3 linked regions of the Homo sapiens genome follow. The protein of the gene in region 1 purifies or fractionates together with the protein of each later gene. This does not show direct contact. Each region holds a gene or a part of one and is shown in the gene's direction. Other genes may lie near its edges.

Region 1 (2,713 bases):
TACAGTTACAAAGGGATGGGGGTTGTAAACCCTCTGAGACTCTGCACTTTTCGCACGTATGGCATCGTCAAGTGCTGTCTTATTACAGCCTTTGTAAGGAGAGGCAGGCTCCTCCTGGGGTGGGCTCTGCAGCTGCTCTATTTCCAGGCATGTGATCGCCCCCGCTCTCCAGATTCCCCAGCACTCTGCTGCGTGTAACTCCACTCAATTCTCCACTCATCCTTCCTTGTGAAGCAGGATCGTTGAAGTTTTAAGTATGGGCAAAAATCTGGAAAACTTAGGATCCCTCTGACACCCCAGGATTAGGGGACACAGCAGTGGCTAGGGCATCAGCCACAGAACTGAGCGGGAAATGCCACTTGTATTGGCTGTAAAGAAATCCTGGCTTTGGGCCAGGCACAGTGGCTCAAGCCTGTAATCCCAGCACTTTAGGAGGTTGAGGCGGATGGATCACCTGAGGTCAGGAGTTTGAGACCAGCCTGGCCAACATGGTGTAACCCCGTCTCTACTAAAAATACAAAAAAATTAGCCAGGCGTGGTAGCGGGCACCTGTAATCCCAGCTACTCAGGAGGCTGAGGCAGGAGAATCACTTGAACCGGGGAGGCAGAGGTTGCAGTGAGCTGAGATCATGCCACTCCACTCCAGCCTGGGCGACAGAGCAAGACTCCATCTCCAAAAAAAAAAAAAAAAAAGGCCGGCACGGTGACTCACGCCTATAATTCCAGCACTTTGGGAGGCCGAGGCAGGTGGATCACGAGGTCAAGAGATCGAGACCATCCTGGCCAACATGGTGAAACCCTGTCTCTACTAAAAATGCAAAAAATTAGCTGGGCGTGGTGGCGGGCGCTTGTAGTCCCAGCTACTCAGGAGGCTGAGGCAGGAGAATCACTTGAACCCGGGAGGCGGAGGTTGCAGTGAGCCGAGATTGTGCCACCGCACTCCAGCCTGGCAACAGAGCGAGACTCTGTCTCAAAAAAAAAAAAGGAAATCCTGGCTTTCTTTAAGCCACAGACTTCCTAGGCTGTGGTCCCAGCTCCTTGTCTGCCTGGTCCCTGTCACCTTGCAGTGCCACCACCCCCAGGGGCTCTGCTTGCTTCCAGTGGCTTCTGTAGCTTTGGCAACTGGCAGATCTTTATGGCAGTAGAGGTGCCAGCATGGAGGATGGAGTTTGGGTTTATAACCCAACCCTCGAACGAACCAGCCTGTGGGGGCCTGGAGTGGAGCTGGTTTTGGGGAGTCACAGGTGCGGGGGGTTCATCTTCTCCTTTCTCCTTCTCCTTTCCTGACCCCTCCGACAGCTTCCATGTTGGCCATGGGTCAGGTGAATGGATGGAGCTCCAAGCGGGGCTCAGCCCATTGACCCGAGCGAGGCGCACACACCTGCAGCGTGGATCAAGCGCACTCTCTCCAGCATCGCCCTGACCATTCCATGTGCTTTGTCCTAGCATGTTCATTCTTGACTTTCTCCACTTCATTTTATTAAAAAGTTAAATGCTTTAGGAATCTGTGGCGTGTGGCCACTGACCGCCCCCCACCTCCTGCCGCTCCTCCAAGTTTGAGCTGAGATGGTTCTGTGAGTCCTTGGCAGGGGTCAAAGGGCACATCTCCTTGAACCTAGAAAGCCCCCTACACTCTCAGAGGACACCTCTCCTGTGGATTCAGCGCTGGGGCAGTGAAGGTGTCGGGAGCCAGCAGAGCATGGTGCGTGCTGCCAGCTGCCGGCCAGCCGGGATAGAGGAGATGCCACTGGCCCTCCGTGCCCCCAGCCCCTCCCTCTTAACCGAGGCTGTCCTTGCTCTCTGCAGAGGCCGCTCTGCAGGATCCTCGTGTCGCGCGTGATGTGTGGTGGCACAGCCGTGTCAAAGTCACAGTGTCTTTTCTGTCGTTCTAGTTCCAGGGTCACCCCCGAGAGGACAACAGGCATCTGGAAGTGCTCTCTCGCCACTCTGGGTGCTTTACTGTCTCTGGCTTGTTTCCATCACTGGAAATCACTTAGAGAATTGTAGTGTTTTTGGTCCTTGATAAAGCCTAGAAGACATTTGTGATGTTACAAAATGGAAGTTTTCTTTTGTTTCTGTTTTTTAAGATCTAAGAAGTTGTGAATGTTGTTAATCATTTAGCCGTTGCAATAAATGTAGAGGAAATGCAGTGTGCTGGGGTCTCCATGGCTGTGTTTTTAAAATCAGATCAGACACCAGCGCACGCAGATGGGAGTGCAGTGTAGAACCAGATGATGGCTGCCTCCCAGGACGTGCCCTCCGCCGGCGTGGTGCTCCTCCCTCGGGCCCCTCCTCACTGGCTTGCCCCACCTGAGGGACCTTGTGTCACTGTCACCAGGAAAGCTTGGAAGATGCCAGAGAGCAGGAAGGGACCAAGCACCCACCAGAGGGAGGGCAATTCCCTTCTGGGGAGGCTGGGGAGGGTAATCGGTACCGCCAAGTACAGAAGCTGCCTTTGAGGGGTGTCAGGGCAGTGGGAGCTGTGCCCCTGCTGCCTACGACTCACCTGTCCCCACAGGGCTTTGCCCCATCATCCCAGGGCTGGGGTTCCAGCTGCCAGAGTAAAACCAGAGCCTGCCTGGGCCACCCTCTGACTGCAGAGCTGCCTCTCTGTCATCTTCACACTCCCTGCTGTCCCTGGGTGCTGCCAGCCTGCCCATGGTTCCTCTGTCAACAGCCCCTTGGCCCTCCAGGTGAGGAGGGGCGTGCAGAG
Region 2 (4,324 bases), on another chromosome or scaffold:
CAGACTGCAGATCTAGCCCTCCCTTCACTAACCCTCTTGTCCTCACTAACCTGGGTCTGTCTAAGCCTTCTTCCCTGTAGTGGATGGGTTGCTCTGCCAAGGCCTGGCATGCAGTTTGGAGGTGCTCAGGAAACCTCAGCTCAGAGCTATGATGGATGAAGCAGGACAAAAGGCCAGAGGTGAACCAAGAAGCTGGGAGAACAAAACAGGACAGGGTCTCTGTTGTCTTGGCCAACCAAGGTCTAGGAGTCTCCAGACTGGTCAACTCCTGGAACGAGTAGCACCCCTCTGGGCCCAGAAAACTTCTCCCCAGCCCCAACAAAGAGCCTGATCCCTGCCCAACACCAGGGGTTGGGTCCCTGCCACCATCACCCCGTGCCCCTTTCCCCGTGTCCAGACTGTGAGGTAAGGGGATGGGGAAGGGGGCACGGGGTGATGGTGGCAGGGACCCAAAAAAGAGTCAGTCAAGCCTGGGTCCCTGCCCCTGCTGCCCAAGTGGTCCTCATTTGGTCAACTTGGGCCTCAGTTTCTCCATCTGTAAAACAGAGCCGGCCGGGTGCGGTGGCTCATGCCTATAATCCCAGCACTTTGGGAGGTCGAGGCGGGTGGATCATGAAGTCAGGAAATCCAGACCATCCTGGCTAACACGGTGGAACCCCGTCTCTACTAAAAATACAAAAAATTAGCTGGGCCTGGTGACACGCGCCTGTAGTCCCAGCTACTCAGGAGGCTGAGGCAGGAGAATCACTTGAACCCAGGAGGCGGAGATTGCAGTGAGCCGAGATCGAGTCACTGCACTCCAGCCTGGGCGACAGAGTGAGACTCTGTCTCAAAAACAAACAAAAAACAGAGCCATGAGGCACCCACCTGTTGAGGTTAAAGAAACAACATATGTGAAGCAAGTTCTGGGCCCTGGAGTTGGGGAATGGGGGGAGCCCCTCCACTGGAGCGTTTGGGAAGGCTTCCTGGAGGAGGGAGGGGGACCCGTGGCAACGGTCTAAGCCTCTCTGGGATCTGGGAGGGCACCGCGGCCCCGAAGGTATTTCAGGCTAGTCCTGCTACTCTCTAACTTCCCGCCATCACACTCCACAAACAGCTAGAGCTCAAAAGTTGCGTTTCGGTCTTCCCATAAAGCGACAGAGTAGCACCTGGCATTTGATAAGCGCTACAAGGGGTCGTCATGGTGGTGGTGGAGATTATTGTTGAAGGACCCTCGCCACCTCCACGCGGCCCGCCGCCCCTTCCCTGAATGGCGGCAAATGCAGTCAGGCGAGCAGCGTCCTGGGCGGATTCAGACCCTGGGGAAGTCTGGAATTCCTCACCCCGACCCTCGTCCCGGAGGCTCAGGCTGGCCCTTCCAATGGCACTGGTGGGGCAGGGCAGCGGGGCACCCTCCCGGGCCGCCCGGCCCATAGGCCCCTCCTCCTGCCAGGCTCTCCGCCCTTTACATGGTCCCAGGAGAGGCGGGGCGGCGGTGACTGCAGCGAAGTGCAGGAAGCTGGGCGGCGGCCGGCAGTGAGGAGGAGGAGCGAGCAGACTTGGGTGGCTCTGCGCCGCGGAGGCCACAGCCGCAGACTTCCCCAGTAGTACCGCGCCGCTCCGCCCCGGAGTGACGCCCTCCGCCCATGGGCCTGGCCGAGGGCAACCGGCGGGCGGCGCGGAGGAGGCGGCGACAGGTGGCGCGCAGCAGGGCCGGAGCCGGGCCGGGCCATGGCCGCCTCGGAGCGGCTGTACGAGTTGTGGCTGCTCTACTACGCGCAGGTGAGCCCGCCCCGCCCCGCGCCCGCACCCGCACCCGCGGTGCCCCCAGCTTCGCGCGCCCCGCGCCTGCTGCACCTGGCGCCCCGCGCCGCTGGGGCCGCGTAGCCGCGCGCGCGGGCGCGCGCGCGCAGGGCATGCTCCGGCTCCGCACACACGTGTGTGCCCCCAGCCCGCCGGGTGCCTCTGGCACTTATGCCTTGGGGACAGAGCTCGCGGTCGTGCACTTCATAGCAACCCACCCCCGCGAGCAGGACCGTGCAGCCTGAGTCTTTCTTGCTAGAGGAGAGTGGCCTGGGCCGAGGCGGCCGGACACTTGGCCTTTTTACAAATGGGGAAACTGAGACCTGGAGAGACCTGGAGACTGGCCAGGAGGCTAGGGGGAGGGGGACTCAATTTGTCTATGAGCTGCCTCTCCCTTGGGCGCGGCCTGATTGGGTGGTCGTGGCCAACGGGTCTGGGGGTGTGGGCCAAGGTAGGGAGGTGTGTGGAAGGGGAATGCTCCCACTTCAGGTCCTTCTTGAGTTGCATCCCCCCACACCCCAGCGAACAGGCTGTGATAAGCTCTTCCCTGACTTGAAATGACCCACCCCACCCCACCCCCATTCTGAGGGGTAGACCCAGGACCTCTCTAGGAGCAGAAGAAAAGGTTTTCCTCTGGATGCCCAGGGTGAGGGTGGGTCCTTGAGGCCCTGAGGGATGTCTGAAAAGGTTGGAGGGAGGCCCGTTCCTCCTGAGCTCCCCACCCATCTCAGAAAATACTTCAGGTGGAGTCAGAAGGTGAGGGGAGTGACTCAGACGTGGGTGTCCCATCAGCTGAGAACCTGGTATCACTCACACCGTCTCACACACATAGTCCCCCATTTTCCTTCTGTACCCACAGCAGGGAGGGATCCCAGGGTAACACTCCCCTCCCCTTCACCCAGCACCTCCCTCCCTGCACCTGCCTGGCATCATGCTCCTGGCTCAGGTGTGCCCTGGGCACAATGGACCATTGTGTGCCCTGAACAGTTTGTCAGTGGGGGGAATTCATGCTCAGACACGCTGGCCCTCCATAAGGAGGCTGGCCCACTGTCTTCCACGGACCTGGAGTCCAGGCCAGAAGGACCACAGCCTCTTCAGTCCGCTCAGGTTGTGAGAGGTCCAGGCCCCAGCAGGAGGCCAGGCATGGAGTAGAGTCCCTCTTTGGTATAACTCAGATCGAACTCGACTTCTGAGCCTCTGCTTCCTGCCTGTAAAACTGACACAGCCCTGGCCGGGCACGGTGGCTCACACCTGTAATCCCAGCACTTTGGGAGGCCGAGGCGGGCAGATCACAAGGTCAGGAGATCGAGACCATCCTGGCCAACATGGTGAAACCCCATCTCTACTAAAATACAAAAATTAGCCGGGCGTGGTGGGGTGTGCCTGTAATCCCAGCTACTCGGGAGGCTGAGGCAGGAGAATCGCTTGAACCAGGGAGGCAGAGGTTGCAGTGAGCCGAGATCGCGCCACTGCACTCCAGCCTGGTGACAGAGTGAGACTCCGTCTCAAAAAAATAAAATAAAAATAAAAAACTGACACAGCCCTGACCTCAGGGGCTTCCTGGACTCTGTGGAGAGGTAGCCATTATAGCTGGTCCAGACCAGAGAAGGCTCCTGTTTTCCTGGCCCCATTGGGTCCCCTCGCCCCAGCTTCTCTGCCTGCATCCCCAGTGGTTGTGAAGGAGCAGAGGGTTTGAAGAGAAGCCTACCCTAGTCCTCCTTCCTCGGACTGCCCCATAGCTATGGGCAGGCTCTAGGTGCATGGGCAGGTAAAGGGGGCTTAAACCAGCTGGTGAGTGTGAGGGATGTTAATGATAGGTCTTCAGCCTGGGTGGCAGGCTGCTGGGAGTGTCTTGGTATCTCCCAGGACAGTAACTCCAGCATGGTTGCCTCCTGATGCCCCATCTAGCTGAGCTCTGTACATGGCCACCCCCCATCCCCTCAGGAGGTGGTTATGGCTCATATCTGTGCTGAGCCTCCCCCTCCCGGAGCTCCTCACCTCGCAGGGCAGGTATGGAGCATAGGCTGGCAGGTTGTAGCTTTGGAAGCCTGAGCAGACAGTGGGCAGCCTGGGGCCAGGCAAACAAATCCAGGATGTAACAGCAAACCCCCAAGCCAGGCGGGGCCAGGCTGCCTGGGAAGAGGAAGCTAGGGCCAGCCTCCCAGCTCGCCTTCCTGCCCGCCTGCTCCTGACCCTGATCCTGGAACCCCCAATCCAGGGAGGAGTAGGCTATGCAACTTTGAGTCCTGTTAGGGACCTATTGTGTGTGTGCTTGGGGAGGGGGAGTGCAAGGTAAGGGGCAGAGCTGAAAGTGGGTGTTTAGAGACCCTTTAGTTGGCCAGCCACCCAGCCAGCAACACCTGCACCCCTCCCTTCAGCAGTGAGAGCTGACATCAGCTGGCAAACCTGTTTCCCCAGTTGTGGGTCTGGGTGGGGATGGAGAGGGGGGAGTAACTCCTTCCTGCCCTTCCTCTTCCTTAAAGACCCCAGGTTTAGACCCACCCACCCCCTCCCCCTGGGGGCCCGGCTCAACTGGGGGCCT
Region 3 (3,650 bases), on another chromosome or scaffold:
AACCAAATTTACACAGTTCACAAGTGACAAAGCCAGGCAGTTTTAGTTAAAGTTCTTATCCACTATCCCCATCATACATTATGTGTGTGTGTGTGTGTGTGTGTGTGTGTGTGTGTGTGTGTGTATGCATGTAGATGGAAGTTACTGATCAGAAAACAAGCCCCAGTAATGACCCATAAGCTCAATGAATTAAAGATTCATTGGTTGCCTGGGATGTGTCAGGCAGCCAGGTTCTAGACAAGGGGCTGGAGTTACTAAGATATTTAAACCACTGGCCCCTGCCCTCCAAGAGATGACACTCACATAGGAGAAAGTGCATATTTGCATACTGTAAACATTTTTACAATGAGATATCTATGAAGGGCAGAAGTCATACAGAGGAAGAAATAGTTAATCAATGAGTGATAAGAAAAGGTTCTCAGAATGTGTCATCTAAGCAGAATTTTAACTAAATTTGCTCAACAAAGCATGATACAGCGTTTCCAATAGGTAGACCAACATATACCAGAATATGAAGCAAAATCCATATGGCATGGAAACAGAAAGCCAATGTTTCTCTCCTTCCATTAGAAACACATTTTCGACATACTAGAACTAGCCTACCCCTTTTTCCTTTTGTTCATCCAATAACAAATATTTATTAAACCTTATTTTAAGCACTGTATTTAAGTGTAAAGTAGACGGAAAGAATAAAAGGAAACCAATATTTCCTGAGTAGTTATTGCAATGACAGGCATTGGGAGAGGCACTGTTTTAAATCATTGTTAATCACCTGATAGGTAGATGTATTATTCCATTTTTATAGCGAGAAACAGACTCAAAAGGGTTAGATGACGTAGCAGGAAGTTTTATCTAGATCTATCCTGTTCCAGATCCTATACTTCTTCCATCACAGTTATTGGTAATGCAGAGTTACCTTGGCTTGATTATTTTCCCTAGCGTGGATACTCACAAACACGCCATTTCTCTGTGACTAAATATTGCCTGACAGCTGACCAAGAATACAAATTTGGTCTGTCATCAAAGCAGAGAGTGAAGTCAAGTGGCTCACAGGTCTCCAACTTCTGACTTTGACCTTATTATGACTGATTAACTGTCCCCCAATTTAGATATTCCATGCCCCATTGGTTAAACTGCTGGTGGCAGAACCATCATGATCTGCCATCTCCGCTGATCCCTGCCTCAGCTGCAATCAAAGCAATGATCACTGTCAGGCCAGAAGAAGGGGCTTAGCCACTGCCAAGACAGATCCCAGTCCACTCCCAGCCTTCCCGCCCCTGCTGCTCATTCCCCAAAAAGTCAACCTGGGTTTTCCTGGGTGAACAGTGCCCACTGAACAGCTCCTGCTTGCCCATCTCAAGCCCTCTCAGTTGCCACTCCAATCATTTTGGCTGCTGTATTTGGTTTGAGAAAGAGTGGAGAGGACACTTCTTCATAACTCATATTTGACAGAAACCCAGAAATTGTAGGAACAAGCCATGATTGCTGTGATTCTTGCTCTGGTTGGCTAGGGATGCCCTCCCTTCCAGCCAGAGTAATACATACTTGTGGGAGTCATGGAAGACTGAGGAAGCTGGAGTAGAAGGGAACAGGGGCTTTCCTCAGTGGTAAAAGGAAAAGCAACATTTTGGAACTCTAAACAGTTGCTCAGTTGGGCGAATTTCATGCATTCATTCATTCATTTACTAAATGGTTAATGATTGTTCATGTACTGCCTGCCAAGCCCATGCCAGGGTGGTCTGTGGAAGCAGCAGTGACAGCTCCATCTTCACACAGCTCACAGATAGCGGGAGGTGCAGACAAACTCACAGGCAATGGTGGCAGTGGAATGTCAAGAGCCCAGGATACCGAGCCTGCCAGCCTGCCTGCCTGGGTTAAAATCTGAGCTCCACCATGTAAAAGCTGAGCAACCTAGAAAAATGACAACCTCTCTGTGCCTCGATTTTCTCATTATGAGATAAGGATAAAAACGACATCTATCTCATAAAATTGCTGTGAAGATTGCATGATTTAATATGCACAAAGCTCTTAGAAGGATGCCTGGCCCACAAATATGCATTCAGTGCACATTTCTTGCTACAGTTCTGCTAATCCTATAAAACATATGCACTATGATGGATGTGTCTGGGTGCCAGGAGGACACAAAGGAGCACTAACTCATCCAGACCAGAAGCTTCCCAGAGGAGGTGATTCCCAAGGTGAAATCCGAAAGATAAAGGGAGTGAGTTATCCAGGAGAAGAGAAAGGAAAAGCATATTCCAGACATCAGGATAGGACAGTGGAGGCAAAACAGCATATGCTATATATATATGGAATTCACAACACTCTGGTATGACTGATTAGTAAAAAGTAGGAAGGCAGACCAAGAGAAATAAGGAGACATGGTAAGGTGAGTGGGCAATAATGCATGATCTGAAAAATAATAATGCATGGACTTAGTGTGGTTCACATATCAGGAGCTTCTCCAATAGCCAGGCTATGAGGCACTAAAATGAGGAAATATGGTTTCCAAACTTCGCAAATACTTATAGTCCAGCCACAGGGGATATACTGATAAACTCAGCTCAAATGTCACCTCCTCAGAGATGCTTTCTCAACCACCCTTAGTTCCATGAGGACTGCATCATTGTTTAGGCCACTCCTGTATCCCCAGAGCACAGAACATTGTCTGGCTCATAGTAGGTGCTCAAAAGTTTTGTTGAATGAATGAACAAATAAACGTGTAAGGAAGTCAGGCACAGCACTTGCCCACAGGAAGCTTATAAGATGAGCGGCATGCCATTGGGAGTTTGAATGATATATGGAGATCCAAACAGGGCATCAGAGGACTGCTCAGAGGAGTCAGGGAATTAAGAAAAAATTGGGAGCCAGTGAGCCAAGATGTGTTAAAAGCAAGTGATCAAGCTTAGATTGCAGTGTTAGTTAATAGAGCATATGTGTCCCTGCCTGATGCATTACCTTCCCTGCAGTAGTTAGCCTTCTGGGACCCTGAAAAGCATGCAGAAAGGTTGACAGCTTACAATCAATACCATGTTCACTGATGCAGGAAGCAACATTATCACATCCAAGATATTGCCCCCACACCCAGGCTGCAGCACTAAATATTCCCCATAACAAGGCAAAGGGAAGTGACAAGAGCTATTATTCTCAACCCTCCCACTTGGAAACAAGAGGTGAGACAAACCTTCCCCTAGATGTTCTTAGGGAAAGGCAAGACCCCCAAAGAAATCTTTCAGAGCTGAGCACATGCCTAATACAGCAAGACAGGGATGGGAGAAGATTGGCATTTTCATTTGCCTGGGTGTCCACAATATTGCAGGGGAAGCTCTGTGGGCAGCTGGGAAATACAACAATAAATTGGAGGGGGATGAACAATAGGGTCAGTGGGGCTGTGTGCTGAGTGAATGCTGGATTTTATTCTACATGCCCAATTCACTCCAATAAGATAAACTTGACTTCCTCCAGTGTGGCTTTCTTATTTCAGCTTCTCTGACTGTGGCATAATTGAAAGTCATATTTCATCTAGACCATTGGTTTTCAACTCCAAATGCAGGTGGCTTATGAAGACTCAGCCTGAATATATAAAGAGAACAGCAAACAATCATAGTTGCATATTAAAGACAATCTATTTCTCCGTAAAGGAAAGTAAA

What was found.
Region 2: the proteins of SUGP2 (region 1) and NBEAL2 purify together in Homo sapiens (tandem affinity purification; one large-scale study listed by IntAct). This does not show direct contact.
Region 3: the proteins of SUGP2 (region 1) and PPP2R2B purify together in Homo sapiens (co-immunoprecipitation; one large-scale study listed by IntAct). This does not show direct contact.

The regions. Positions count from the first base shown.
Region 1 is NC_000019.10:18,990,329-18,993,041, reverse strand, and holds the end of SUGP2 (SURP and G-patch domain-containing protein 2), read left to right. Parts: 3' UTR 1-2,149; downstream 2,150-2,713. UniProt on the Homo sapiens protein: May play a role in mRNA splicing.
Region 2 is NC_000003.12:46,978,152-46,982,475, forward strand, and holds the start of NBEAL2 (neurobeachin-like protein 2), read left to right. Parts: upstream 1-1,514; 5' UTR 1,515-1,710; coding exon 1,711-1,761; intron 1,762-3,780; exon of another isoform or gene 3,781-3,843; intron 3,844-4,324. UniProt on the Homo sapiens protein: Probably involved in thrombopoiesis. Plays a role in the development or secretion of alpha-granules, that contain several growth factors important for platelet biogenesis.
Region 3 is NC_000005.10:146,581,734-146,585,383, reverse strand, and holds part of PPP2R2B (serine/threonine-protein phosphatase 2A 55 kDa regulatory subunit B beta isoform), read left to right. Parts: 3' UTR 1-3,650. UniProt on the Homo sapiens protein: The B regulatory subunit might modulate substrate selectivity and catalytic activity, and might also direct the localization of the catalytic enzyme to a particular subcellular compartment.